Homo sapiens: one gene and its partners. The protein of the gene in region 2 interacts with the protein of the main gene of each other region in a pairwise test. Each region holds a gene or a part of one and is shown on either strand. Other genes may lie near its edges. The genes, in order: PCSK5, NR1D2, CLOCK and LGALS8.

Evidence for each region.
Region 1: the proteins of NR1D2 (region 2) and PCSK5 interact in a two-hybrid assay, tested with the Homo sapiens proteins (one large-scale study listed by BioGRID).
Region 3: the proteins of NR1D2 (region 2) and CLOCK interact in a two-hybrid assay, tested with the Homo sapiens proteins (one study listed by BioGRID).
Region 4: the proteins of NR1D2 (region 2) and LGALS8 interact in a two-hybrid assay, tested with the Homo sapiens proteins (one large-scale study listed by BioGRID).

What each region holds. Positions count from the first base shown.
Region 1 is NC_000009.12:76,331,133-76,334,705, reverse strand, and holds part of PCSK5 (proprotein convertase subtilisin/kexin type 5 isoform 3 precursor), read right to left. Parts: exon of another isoform or gene 3,153-3,573; intron 2,274-3,152; coding exon 2,096-2,273; intron 1-2,095. UniProt on the Homo sapiens protein: Serine endoprotease that processes various proproteins by cleavage at paired basic amino acids, recognizing the RXXX[KR]R consensus motif. Likely functions in the constitutive and regulated secretory pathways.
Region 2 is NC_000003.12:23,955,252-23,958,824, forward strand, and holds part of NR1D2 (nuclear receptor subfamily 1 group D member 2), read left to right. Parts: intron 1-785; coding exon 786-874; intron 875-3,573. UniProt on the Homo sapiens protein: Transcriptional repressor which coordinates circadian rhythm and metabolic pathways in a heme-dependent manner.
Region 3 is NC_000004.12:55,427,344-55,429,670, reverse strand, and holds the end of CLOCK (circadian locomoter output cycles protein kaput), read left to right. Parts: 3' UTR 1-1,768; downstream 1,769-2,327. UniProt on the Homo sapiens protein: Transcriptional activator which forms a core component of the circadian clock.
Region 4 is NC_000001.11:236,537,418-236,540,990, forward strand, and holds part of LGALS8 (galectin-8), read left to right. Parts: intron 1-79; coding exon 80-168; intron 169-1,461; coding exon 1,462-1,672; intron 1,673-3,146; coding exon 3,147-3,266; intron 3,267-3,573.

The DNA of each region.
Region 1 (3,573 bases), on a different chromosome or scaffold from region 2:
AGGTTGGAGTGCAGTGGTGTGATCTTGGCTCACTGCAACCTTGGCCTCCTGGGTTCAAGCAATTCTCCTCCCTCAGCCTCCCAAGTAGCTGGGATGACAGGCACGTGCCACCATGCCTGGCTAGTTTTTGTATTTTTAGTAGAGATGGGGTTTCACCCTGTTGGCCAGGCTGGTCTCAAACTCCTAACCTCACCTCCCACCCACCTCGGCCTCCCAAAGTGCTGGGATTATAGGCGTGAGCCACCCTGCCCAGCCTGGCTGGTGTTTTTCAAGAGCTGCCAATGTGTGGCTCTGTGCTGAGTGTTGTAGAAGCAAATGTAAGACGTAAGAGGTGTTTTTCTTCCATGAGTTTATAATTTTCTTGGGAAGAGGCATATAAAAATAAGAATAAACTCTTAAAGTCAGTGATATGGTTTGGTTCTGTGTCTCACCCAAATCTCATCTTGAATTGTACTCCCATAATTCCCATGTGCTGTGGGAGGGACCCTGTGGGAGATGGTTGGATTGTAGGGGCGGTTTCCCCCATGCTGTTCTTGCTGTTGTGAATAAGTCTTACGAGATCTGACGGTTTGATAAGGAGAAACCCGTTTCGCCTGGCTCTCATTCTCTCTCTTTGCCTGCCGCTATCCACATAAGATGTGACTTGCTCCTACTTGCCTTCTGCCATGATTGTGAGGCCTCCCCATCCACATGGAACTGTAAGTCGAATTAAACCTCTTTAGTTTGTAAATTGCCCAGTCTTTGGGTATGTCTTTATCAGCCGCGTGAAAACAAACACAGTCAGTCTTTCTTTTACTCATCTTATTTATACATACAAAGTACTCATCATGAAATGTGTTAAATAAATAAGTGAATGAATGAGATAAATCAAAATGCAAGGCAGCATATAGCACTAAAATGAATGAAACAAGCAGTAACTGCTATAGGACCGAAGAGATGTGTCAATTTGGGTGAAAGCATTTGAGGAAGGTCTAAGGTTACAGCCCTTGATTTGGGTCTGGAAACTCCCAGTGCTCTAGGTTATTGATTGGGTAGAAAGAGTCAGCAACAGGCCTATCATCAATCTTTTACTCTTTACTGGGAATGCCTGGGGGAGAAAAAGGATATGCTGGCAATCAGACCTTCTGATAACACTAACAGTTCTTCCTAGCAGAAAAATAATAGAGTCCTTATCCATGAAATGCTTTTAGAAGGATACATCAAGTGCGTGTGTCTACGTTGTTTATGATAACAAAACCTGTAATTTGTGGATTTATAGGTGACATGACAGGTTGGGGAATTAATGGGGAATAAATGGAGATGTTAATGGAACTATTTCCTTTGTAAATCAATGTTCCACACTCACTGCTCTCCTCACATAAGCAGGTTGGGAGAATGTGAGACCCTGAATTTTAAATCTGAATCAGAACAAGTCCTGAAGGTGAAGAAAAAGAACCTCCATTAATGATCTTGGGCTTCTCTGAGGAAAGGATGCTTTGCTTCTGCCTTGTGATTGCTGAGACCCTTTGCCAAATTGTTTTAATTTTTAGAAACAAGGTCTTGCTCTGTCACTGAGGCTGGAGTGCAGTGGTGCAATCATAGCTTACTGCAGCCTCCAACTCCTGGGTTCAAGTGATCATCCCCTGCCTCAGCTTCTATAGAAGCTGGGACTATAGCCTGATGGCACCATGCCCAGCTAATCTTATTTTAATATTTTACAGATGGGGTCTCAAGATGTTGCCCATACTGGTTCAAACTCCTGCCTTAAGTGATCCTCCAGCCTCAACCTCCCACGTAGTTGGGATTACAGGCATGAGCCACAGTGCCCAGCTGCCAATATGCTTTGAATTTTCAGTAAGGACTGTCGTTGAGGAAGATCAATTGCTCAGGTGAGTCCGGCTTGACAATCTGACCCTTTGTGTTAACTCACTCGGTCACTCTGCCTCTCCTGTTTCTCTTCTGTTACTGTGAATTGGTTCATCTTTGCTCCTTACTAGCACTGAGACTTCAACCTGGTTTTATAAGTGTTCTGAATCTTAGTTTCCTCATTTGTAAAATGGGTTGATATCTGCTGTGGCTGTGAAATTACATGGGGGAAAATGTATTGAGCACTTACCCTTCCCTGCACTGGAGCAGGCACTCTTTTCCTAGCTGGAACCAGCCCGGTCGGCAGGAGTGGCACTGCCTGCTGTGTCTCCCTTCACATGTCCTGCAAGAGCTGTGGCAGTGGGCACACCGGTTGCTGTCCTCATCGGCATAATAGCCCTCTGGGCAGTCCTTCACACAGGTTGTGTCTGTCATGGGAGAAAAAATGTCTATTTGGACATCGAGCATGACACATGTCTCCCCTGTATTTTCCCTCTTGTGTACCATGGCGGGAGGGAGGAGAGGGCTGCAGGAGGAATGGGATGATCCTGTGAGCTGATGGATATGTTTGGGAAATAAGATTAGTGTCCAAGAAACAGAATTGCCCTAAGGCCATGAGGAATACAAGGAAAACAGAAGTCAGTGATATGGTTTGGCTCTGTGTCCCACCCAAATCTCATCAGTGATCCCATCTCATCTCATCAGAGATCCAAATCTCATCTGTGTCCCACCCAAATTTCTCAGTGGATTAGCTGTGGTGGGTAGAACAGAAACTACAGTCCGGCGCCTGTGGATGTTGGCAATGGCTCATTGTCCAGCTCATGTATCTGGTTAACTAGGGGGAAGCCCCAGCTTCCTGAAGGAAAAACACCGCCGTATTAGTCTCTTATTGCTGTTCCTATGAAGTATCCCCAACTTGGGGCCTTGAAACAACAATTTATTATCTTACTGTTCTGGAGGTCAGAAGTCCAAAATAGATCCACAGGGCTCTGTTCCTTTTAGAGGCTCTAGGAGGGAATCTGTTTCCTTTCCTTTTCCACTTGCTAGAGTCCACCTGCATGCCTTGGCTCATGGCCCCTTCCTCTGTCTTCAAAGGCAGCAGTGCAGTAGCTTCTCTCTGTCCCTCTGCTTCTGATCACATCACCTTCTATTACTGACTCTGATCCCCTGGCATCTCTCTTTTTTTTTTTTTTTGAGATGGAGTCTCACTCTGTCGCCCAGGCTGGAGTGCAGTGGCACAATCTTGGCTCACTGCAAGCTCCACCTTCCGGGTTCACACCATTCTCCTGCCTAAGCCTCCCGAGTAGCTGGGACTACAGGCACCTGCCACCACACCCAGCTAATTTTTTGTATTTTTAGTAGAGACGGGGTTTCACCGTTTTAGCCAGGATGGTCTCGATCTCCTGACCTTGTGATCCGCCCACCTCGGCCTCCCAAAGTGCTGGGATTACAGGCGTGAGCCACCATGCCTGGCCCACCCCCGGCATCTCTCTTATCAGACCCTTGTGATGGCATTGGGTCTACGTGGATAATGCAGGATAATCTCTCTATGCCGAGATCCTCAACTAAATCACTGCCCCAAAGTCCTTTACCAAGTAGAGTAATACATTTACAGGATCTGGGGATCAGGATGTGTCATCTTCAGGGGGGCCATTATTCAGTCTACCACGATGTCCAAAAAAAGTATCTAATTTATAAATAGCCTGACCCTGGTGGTGTGGTGGTGTG
Region 2 (3,573 bases):
GTGAAGTAAATTGACACAGCTGCCTGTGGAGAGATATCCCTTTCCACCTTTTATTGATTGACTTCTCTGTCTGAATTCTTAATTGTTATCCAGAGAATTGTTTTCTTAGTTCTGGTTGCATATCTGGTATAAAGTAACTCTAAATTTACAAAATTTCTTATTTCCTGCTGACAGGTCTGGAAAAAAAATAAATTTACAAAATTTCAGTGTAATTCTAAAATCAGGAAAGGAAAAATCCGGGTCAGCGAGGTATTTTTGTCAGTGCCATAAGTTGTATTTAAAAGAAAATTATGGCTGGGTGTGGTGGCTCACACCTGTAATCCCAATATTTTTGGAGGCTGAGTGGGGCGGAGTCCAGGAGTTCAAGACCAGCCTGGGCAACATGGCAAAACCCCATCTCTACTAAAAATACAAAAATTAGCTGGGTGTGGTGGTGCATGCCTGTAGTAGTCCCAGCTACTTGGGAGGCTGAGGCATGAGAATCACATGAACCTGGGAAGTGTGGAGGTTGCAATGAGCTGAGATCACGCCACTGCGTTCCAGCCTGGGCGACAGAGGGAGACTCTATCTTTAAAACAAAACAAAGCAAAACAAAAAAAAAACACCGTAAGAAAATTATGATTGTGATTACTTTTGATTTGAAAATATTTTTCTTTTACATTATGAAAGTAGATGTGTATCTTCTAAAAGCTCTTACACGTTGAATGAAATAAAATATCTAATTGGAAAGAAAACAGACTCGGTGTTTCCTCCTACTTTTTACTTCGTGTCCTTTTGTGTCCTAGAATTTAGTGGCATGGTTCTACTGTGTAAAGTCTGTGGGGATGTGGCGTCAGGATTCCACTATGGAGTTCATGCTTGCGAAGGCTGTAAGGTAAAGCATGCTTTTGTTTCTTTAAGCTACTGATTCTGGGATTTAAGAAGTTGGGTTTAGATTTACCCATTTGTGCAATTGATAGTCTGAGAGACAGTGAGAAGTCAGCTGCTCTTTTTAAGTTTTAAGCATTTTATGTAGTGTATAAGCATAACTTGTTTTGAATAATATTCTTAATTCAGTGAAAGTATTTCTTTTTTCTTTAAGATTTTGAACAAAGTAAATTTGCTATCTCAATTAAACATACTTATTGTGTTAAACCAAGTGCACCAAATGCTCATTCATTAATGTGTCAAGCACAGTTCTAGGTGGTAGTGAAATAACAAGGAACAAAACAGAGAAGGCACTACTTCTGCCTTGTGGGAACTTAGTTTAAACCAAACTTTGAATTAGGATCTCATCATATACTTTGACTTAATGACACGTCAGGTACTGGGAGCTGGGAATAATTGCTACATACTTGAAAAAAATGTGGTATCTTAAAAAATAATGCCAAGTGAGTAAAATAATCCTGAATATAAGTTGAGCCCTTGGGAAAGCTAGTTTATTTGTAAGTTTAGTTGACTATTTTCTAGTTATTGCTATTAGAGTATTGGTCAAATAATTCCAAGTGAGATGGTCTCTACCTCCCTACCTATATACAGGGAATCTTTCTCTCTTTTTAAAAAACTTGGCACAATCTTTTCTCCTGAGTATCAAAAATTAACGTGATGAAGACACATGTTCTTGCTGTTCTCTGACTTGAGGCCACAAGCAAGAATCTAGTTTGGCGAGATATGATGGGTAAACAAGATAATGAATATACATGATGGGAGAGGAAATATTTTCAAGTGTGGCTCTGAATGAATTGCGAGTTTGCCAGTTTTTTTTTTTTTAGATGGAGTTTTGCTCTTATTTCCCAGGCTGAAGTGCAGTGGTGTGATCTTGGTTCACTGCAACCTCTGCCTCCTGGGTTCAAGTGATTCTCCTGTCTCAGCCTCCCGAGTAGCTGGGATTACAGGCACACGCCACCACTCCAGGCTAATTTTTGTATTTTTAGTAGATTCGGGGTTTCATCACATTGGCCAGGCTGGTCTTGAACTCCTAACCTCAGGTGATCTGCCCGCCTCGGCTTCGCAAAGTGCTGGGATTACAGGCGTGAGCCACGCGCCCTGCCAAGTTTGCTAACTTTTAATGGCCGGGTAACTTTGTAAGACAAGTCAGTATTTTTTATAGATGTAGCATTTTTTTCATTGTTTAAAAAAGATTCTCCTTCTCTATATATCTTTTTTTTTTTTTTTTTTTTTTTTTACAAAAATGTGAAGTAATAGGCCAGGTGCGGTGGCTCACGCCTGTAATCCCAGCACTTTGGGAGGCCGAGGCGGGCGGATCACGAGGTCAGGAGATCGAGACCATCCTGGCTAACATAGTGAAACCCTGTCTCTACTAAAAATACAAAAAAAAAAAAATTAGCCGGACGTAGTGGTGGGCGCCTGTAGTCCCAGCTACTCGGGAGGCTGAGGCAGGAGAATGGCGTGAACCCGGGAGGCGGAGCTTGCAGTGAGCTGAGATTGCACCACTGCACTCCAAGCCTGGGCGACAGAGCCAGATTCCGTCTCAAAAAAAAAAAAAGTGAAGTAATATTGGGGAAGGCATTATTCTTACTTTATAGCTAGAAAATAAAAGCACAAACTGAATGAGCTGATTGCATATTCTTGATAAATACACATCTGTGCAGTACTCTTAAAATGTCTAGTTCAGCTCTTGTAGTATCTAAGTCAAGTGTATAGTATCACAATAATAAAATATAAAAATGTTGTGTCCCATGACTACTTAGTATAGATTCGGGAAATGTGTTTAGTTGTCATATAAAAGGAAAATGCAGTTTAAAATAATTTCAGTAATTGCATTCTTGAGTTTTCTGTCCTCCCTGGTACCATGAAACTGGAGATCTTTGGAGACCTATCACAGAACATGTACTGGAATTGTTTGTGTGTGGAGTAAAGGCAGCTGTTTGTAGCCATCTAGTTGGGAACTGTCTTTCCTTGGATAGTTAGCTACTCTGTTGGTGTGTGGTGTAACACTTACCTGTTGCTGGCACGTAGTCAGTGATTTCTGTCATGTATAAGTAGGCCTTGCCATTGTCAGCAGGTAATGATCCTGGAAAGACCAACTTCTGTTAATGTAATCCACAATCTAGTGAGGGGATTATAGCTATCAAACATATTTCTCAGTCCACTTTTTAAGAAGTAGTCATTTAGGCTGGGTGCAGTGGCTCAGGCCTGTAATTCTAGCTCTTTGGGAGGCTGAAGCTGTAGGATTGCTTGAGGTGGAGTGTGAGACCCACCTGGGCAACATAGGGAGACCCTACCTCTACAAAAAATAAAAAAGCTGGATGTGGTAGCACATGTCTGTAGTCCCAGCTCTTGGGAGGCTGAGGCAGAAGGATTGCTTGAGCCCGGGAGTTCGAAGTTGCGGTGAGCTATTATTACGTCATTGTACTCCAGCCTGGGTGACAGAGCAAGACCCTGTCTCTTTAAAAAAAAAAAAAAAAAAAAAAAGCCTGGACATGGTGGCTCGTGCCTGTAATCCTAGCACTTTGGGAGGCCAAGGTGGGCGGATCAGTTGAGGTCAGGAGTTCAAAACCAGCCTGGCCAACATGGTGAAACCCTGTCTCTACTAAAAATACAAAAAATTAGCCAGGTATGGTGGCACGTGCC
Region 3 (2,327 bases), on a different chromosome or scaffold from region 2:
ATTTTGCCCATTTGGGGAAATGTTAGTAAAAGAAATAGCATCTTTTAATGGCTGTCATTATCATATCCATATTAAAATCCATTTAAAGTTCTTAAATTTGGCGGAATAATGTATACAGGCTGTAAACTTCTACAAAAAATGTTTGCTGTCTTTAATATGGTGTCAAGTTACTTGGTCCTTTGAAAACAAAACAAAACTTCCATACACAGCACTGCCCAGTAAAGCAGTGTTGGAATATTGGAAACCTAGACATTTGAGGATCCTTCTTGCTCACAAGCATTGGAACAGAATCCTCCACTTTAGGACTCAGAGAAGCTATGGAGTCCCACAGGCTAGGTATAGCACACAACTTAGAGAACGGTAGTTAAAGCACGTCAACCACAATTGAATTTAATGATCTAAAAAATATTTCTTAACTCTGAGGGTTAAACTGAAGATACGTTTTCAAATAAAAGCTTTTAAATTTCTTAGGAAACAAACTGTGACATCGCTTTTAAAAATGACATTCAAATGTTTATAATGTGTGTTTTTGAGTTGGCTTGGACTAGTGCAAGTTCACTGCTGGCAATGGTTATGCCAGTAGTTAAGTTAAAATAAGTTGTTACCTTCAGATTGATGTCTTGTATAACCAGACAATCATCTTCAAGCAAAAAAATTGGCCAGGAAATGTCTTTTTAAAAAAAAAAAAAAAAAAAAAGATGTGTCAGCCAGAACAGTTACCATTCAGACCATACTGGAATGATTTTGAAATCTTTACTATGGTTTAAGTTGGGGAAGGCCTCAGTATGGCATTTTCATATTCACTCTATGTAAAGATTGAAGCCCAAAGATGAGTTAAATTCAGTGCTGTATTGAAACCAGTCAGTGCAAAAAAAAAAAAAAAGTTTTACCTTTGTAAATTTTTCATTGTTAACATCAGTTGGTAGTTGTTAAAACATGCACCAAATTCTTTATAATGTTCTGTGTGGTTCTCAATGTGATATTCTTGACATTGCTGTCCTTACTGCTTGGTTCTTGGTTTTAAATTAAAAAGTAGATGTAGCTCATCATTTTTACTTCCAAAACGGTGGAGCTAAAAACGGCTAATTGATCTTGAGATAAGAATACCCTTTACTAAGGCAAAGATTTAATTGAAATCCAAAATGATTTATAGAAACGAAAGGCATTTTCCATTTGTTGTCTTCTGCCGAAATTCTGAATTGCATACACACATGAAGGATAATGAATGGTTTCAACGGTGCTATATTAGGTTCTCTGATTTTCATGACCTATGTATGTTTGGAAATACAATATTGTATAAAATGTGGATCGTTTTGTTACCGATTTAATATTGCCATTTTAATTTGGTGTAACAATTGGTTACACTTGTTTTTCAAAGCTATCCTTTGAGGAGAAAGTCAAAATGTGTTGTTAGCCTACCTCCACTCAGGCCTCTTGCTGTGTAATCATTATTCCAGGTTATGATGTGCATAGCTTTTAAAACTGCGTGTACTATTATTCTGCTCTTTCCCATACTCTTGTCATGTATTCAGAACCTAAACTTATAGCAAAAGAGCCAAGCAGTAGCAGTTTTTGTAAATGTAAAAATAATTAGATCCAGACTTTGTTTCCTTCAATTTTAAAAATAAAAAATACCTCAGTGCTATGTTTTTCAGTTATCACCTGCATTTCTCAAAAAATAACACCTGCTTCATGTGGCACATAACTTGTAAGAATCACATTTTGGATTTTAAAGAAAGACTATTAAATATTTTAAGATCACTATCAATGACATTTCCCTTTCTTTTATTCAACAATGGAGCCTATTGCAGTAGCGATTTTTACCTTATAGCTTAGGTCTGACTTACCAAAAATTCTCAGAGGAATTATGTCCTGCTACAAGATTGTGGTGCCTCAGAATGCGATGCTGTTCTTATTCGCATATGAAGCTAGTAATGGGACCAAGCTACCTGAACTGAGGTTACACGATGATGGTGCCAGCTACTCCCTACGAGGAATTGTCTTTTCTGTTGTTATTAGAAAAAACGGTTGGGTGCGGTGGCTCACGCCTGTAATCCTAGCACTTTGGGAGGCTGAGGTGGGTGGATCACCTAAGGTCATGAGTTCAAGACCAGCCTGGCCAACATGGTAAAACCCTGTCTCTACTGAAAATACAAAAAAATTAGCCAGGCGTGGTGGCGGGCACCTATAATCCCTGCAACTTGGGAGGCTGAGGCAGGAGAACTGCTTGAACTCAGGAGGCAGAGGTTGCAGTGAGCCGAGATTGCGCCACTGCATTCCAGCCCAGGTGACAGAGTGAGATAGATTGTCTCCAAACAAACAAAACG
Region 4 (3,573 bases), on a different chromosome or scaffold from region 2:
AATAATGAGTGTGGGTTGTAATTGCTTAGTAAGTAATTTTGTTTATGTAAACGTACATTTGTTAAATTTTTTTTCTTAGGTAATCCCGTTTGTTGGCACCATTCCTGATCAGCTGGATCCTGGAACTTTGATTGTGATACGTGGGCATGTTCCTAGTGACGCAGACAGGTAAAATCACTGTGCTAAAGGAAGGAGCATGAATAGGCTGTCTTTTTGTGATTGTGGAATGATAACAGAGTAAGGCGGGAGAGACCATTTGATACTTTGAGGCCCAATTAGCTTTCATCAGCAGCCCTGGCCAAGGTGCTGAGGAGATTGGAATGAATGACTAAATAAAGGTTATTGGGATTTATTTCATTGCTGTAAGTCTGATTTCAGTATAAAAAATTAGAACTATCAGCTGGATGTGGTGACTTAAACATACTTTTCCAGCACTTTGGGAGGCCAAGGCAGGAGGATTGTTTGAGGCCAGGAGTTTGAGACCAGCCTGGGCAACATAGTGAGACCCCCCATCTGTAAAAAAAAAAAAAATTTAAAAATTAACTGGCTTGGTGGTGTGCGCCTGTAGTTGTAGCTACTCAGGGGGCTGAGGTAGGAGGATTCCTTGAGCCCAGGAGTTTGAGGTTGCAGTGAGCTGTGATCGAGCCACTGCACTATAGCCTGGGTGACAAAAAAAAAAAAGAAAAAGAAAAAGAATTAGGTATGTCATTAAAGAAAGGAATTGTGGTCAGATGACAGGGACAGTCTAGTTTTAGTCTGACATTCCCACAGCATTACAGATCTAGTTCAGATGGTTTTACTGAATACCTGCTTTGGATACAAGCTGTGGTATCATTAGTGTTGGGCTCAGCTCTGTGTACCTAACACCTGAAGAGCAGTGGTTTAAGATGTGAAAATTAAGTCTCAAGGAGACAGCCCAGGCCTTTTCAGTTAACTCCTTCAAGTCGTTAGAGAAGTAGACTCCTTCGAGCTCACCACTCTGTTATCTTGAGGGTGAGGTAAGGTCCCCTTTCCCGTTTTCCTTGGCAGCCAGATTTCCAGCCCTCACTTCTGTGCTTTGGGTAGCTGGATGGGTGCATGTGGTGTTTGCGGGGAAACAGAGCTGGACAAAAGGCAAGTGCTTGCTGACTTCTAAGGCAGTTTCCAGTAGCCTTCCCTGAGCACTTCACTTCCATCTTACCAGCAGAGCTTTAGCTGCACAGGCAGGCCTAGCTGCGAGGGAGGCTGGGAAAGGTAGGTTTTTATTCTGGGCAGATTCAGACCCAGTTCAAACTCAGGGGCTATTTTACTGAGGAAGACAGAAAAGATTAGACAGTCAGCTCTTTAGGCCTCATAGTGAATGAATGAGGAGGGATTGGTCAGTCCCTTGTCACTGGGCCTGGAGTGTAGTGCCTGCTGGTCCTTTACTGGTGGCTTTCCTTTCTGAGCACTCATGGGGCCCCTGTGTCTTCCCTCATATAGATTCCAGGTGGATCTGCAGAATGGCAGCAGCATGAAACCTCGAGCCGATGTGGCCTTTCATTTCAATCCTCGTTTCAAAAGGGCCGGCTGCATTGTTTGCAATACTTTGATAAATGAAAAATGGGGACGGGAAGAGATCACCTATGACACGCCTTTCAAAAGAGAAAAGTCTTTTGAGATCGTGATTATGGTGCTGAAGGACAAATTCCAGGTAGGTTTTGGAGAGGGACAGGTTGAGTCCTCATTAGTGAGCAGGAGTGCACAGGGGTGCTTTTCACATTTGTGAGCCCAGCCTTATATTTCCTACACCTGAGATATAGTTTGTTTGGCTTTGTAGTTTTTCTCCATAAAAGGACCAGGAAGGCACCTAAATGTGAGGTATGGCACCACTACTCTCCAGCCAGTTGTTGCCATGCAGAAATATGGTCCACTGTGACCAGATCTTTTTATTAGATCCTATTTCTCCTAGCAGGGCTGAGTTCCGAATTGACACAGTATTATGTTCATGATGGGAGGGTAAGTTATAATATAACCGCCACCACCCGAAGAGCTAACAAGGGCAATCCCAGCGAAGAAATCAGAAGGGTTTTGTAAATTCAAGTCTTGCCACAAGACAGTTCCGTAGGATCATGAGATTTTAGACCCAGAGGAGATCCTAGAAATCCTTGATGTCAGTTCCATCTCTGGCTTCATGGAGTGTCTTGTACCTAGCGTGTATGTGTACGGTTGAATTTGGTCCCAGAAGCTTACACCTGCTGGCCCTCTGGCCTGTGGAGCTTGCCCACAGTAGAGGTATGTACCAACGCGAGAGAAGACTCGAATGCCTCTGGCGCAGATCCTTTCTGATCTTCGGGATACTGCTCCTGCCCGAAAGTCTTTCTGAATCTCCCAAACTCCATTCACCTCTCCCTTCTCTGGCCTTTTGAGCCCGTGTCTGTATCATTCTTTTTCACAGTTTTTAACAGTTGTGCTTTGGCTTTACGTGTTTATTTTGCCTCCACAATGGGATTTTAAGCTCCCTGAGTCAGAGACTATATTGTATGCTGCTCGCGTTTTCTGCCTATAACCTAACGTGGTACCTGGCATTTGAGAGGGAGGGAGGAGGAGCCTCGTAGCGTGCCGAGGACCTGCAGAAGCTACTTTCTCGTCATCTTACTGTAGTCTGTTGAGGTAGAGACTGTTCCTACTTCAGAATAAGAAAACCGAATTCAAATATGTTGGGTAACTTGTCCATATTAATTTATTTAGCAAATACAACAGATTTTGAGTGTCTGCCACATGGGTGGTCTCCAGGGACAGTGTTGTGGGGAGCTCGCAGGCAGATCTTTAACCTGGGTTCACAATCTCCAGGGCACCTGTGCCTGGGCTTCCAGGCGACCTTCGAACCCAGATGTCTCACATGTATGCAGAGGCGCACACAAGCACACGCACATATACTTATGACTGCCTGTTTGTCTGGGGAGAGACAGTTCCTGGTGCTTAATCAAATCAGGAACTCAAAAGAAGTTTGGAAGCACTGCTAGTGTTTTGGGTGCTTTCGGTTACCATTTGGTCATGTGTGTGGAGACCTGTGGGAACAGGTATAAAACTGGACGCAAGGAAACATTTAAATTTGGATAATAAGTTAATTTATTAACTGTTTTTTTTTGGTGGCGGGGGGGGCTCTGTCTTCTGTATCTCTCTAGGTGGCTGTAAATGGAAAACATACTCTGCTCTATGGCCACAGGATCGGCCCAGAGAAAATAGACACTCTGGGCATTTATGGCAAAGTGAATATTCACTCAATTGGTTTTAGCTTCAGCTCGGTGAGTGACCTTCCACAGCTTGGGGTCTTTTATGAGGATGGTTTCTGATGAGATGGTAGAAAAAATCTTCAAATAACACTTCTATTGACATAAAAAGGACGTATCTCCCTGACTGTAGTATTAATTTTTTGGAAGTGAACTGTTCACACTAGCAGAAGGCTGTTTATCAGCCAGGGCTTCATTGTCTGTAGGATCTCAAACCTAGTGTGGTTTTAATAAAACACACACAGTTTTTAGCTGGGTAGCAGCTATTTCCTTTGCATGGGCATAAAATGGAGTATTTCTGTAAGACAGGTTCCTAGGCTGG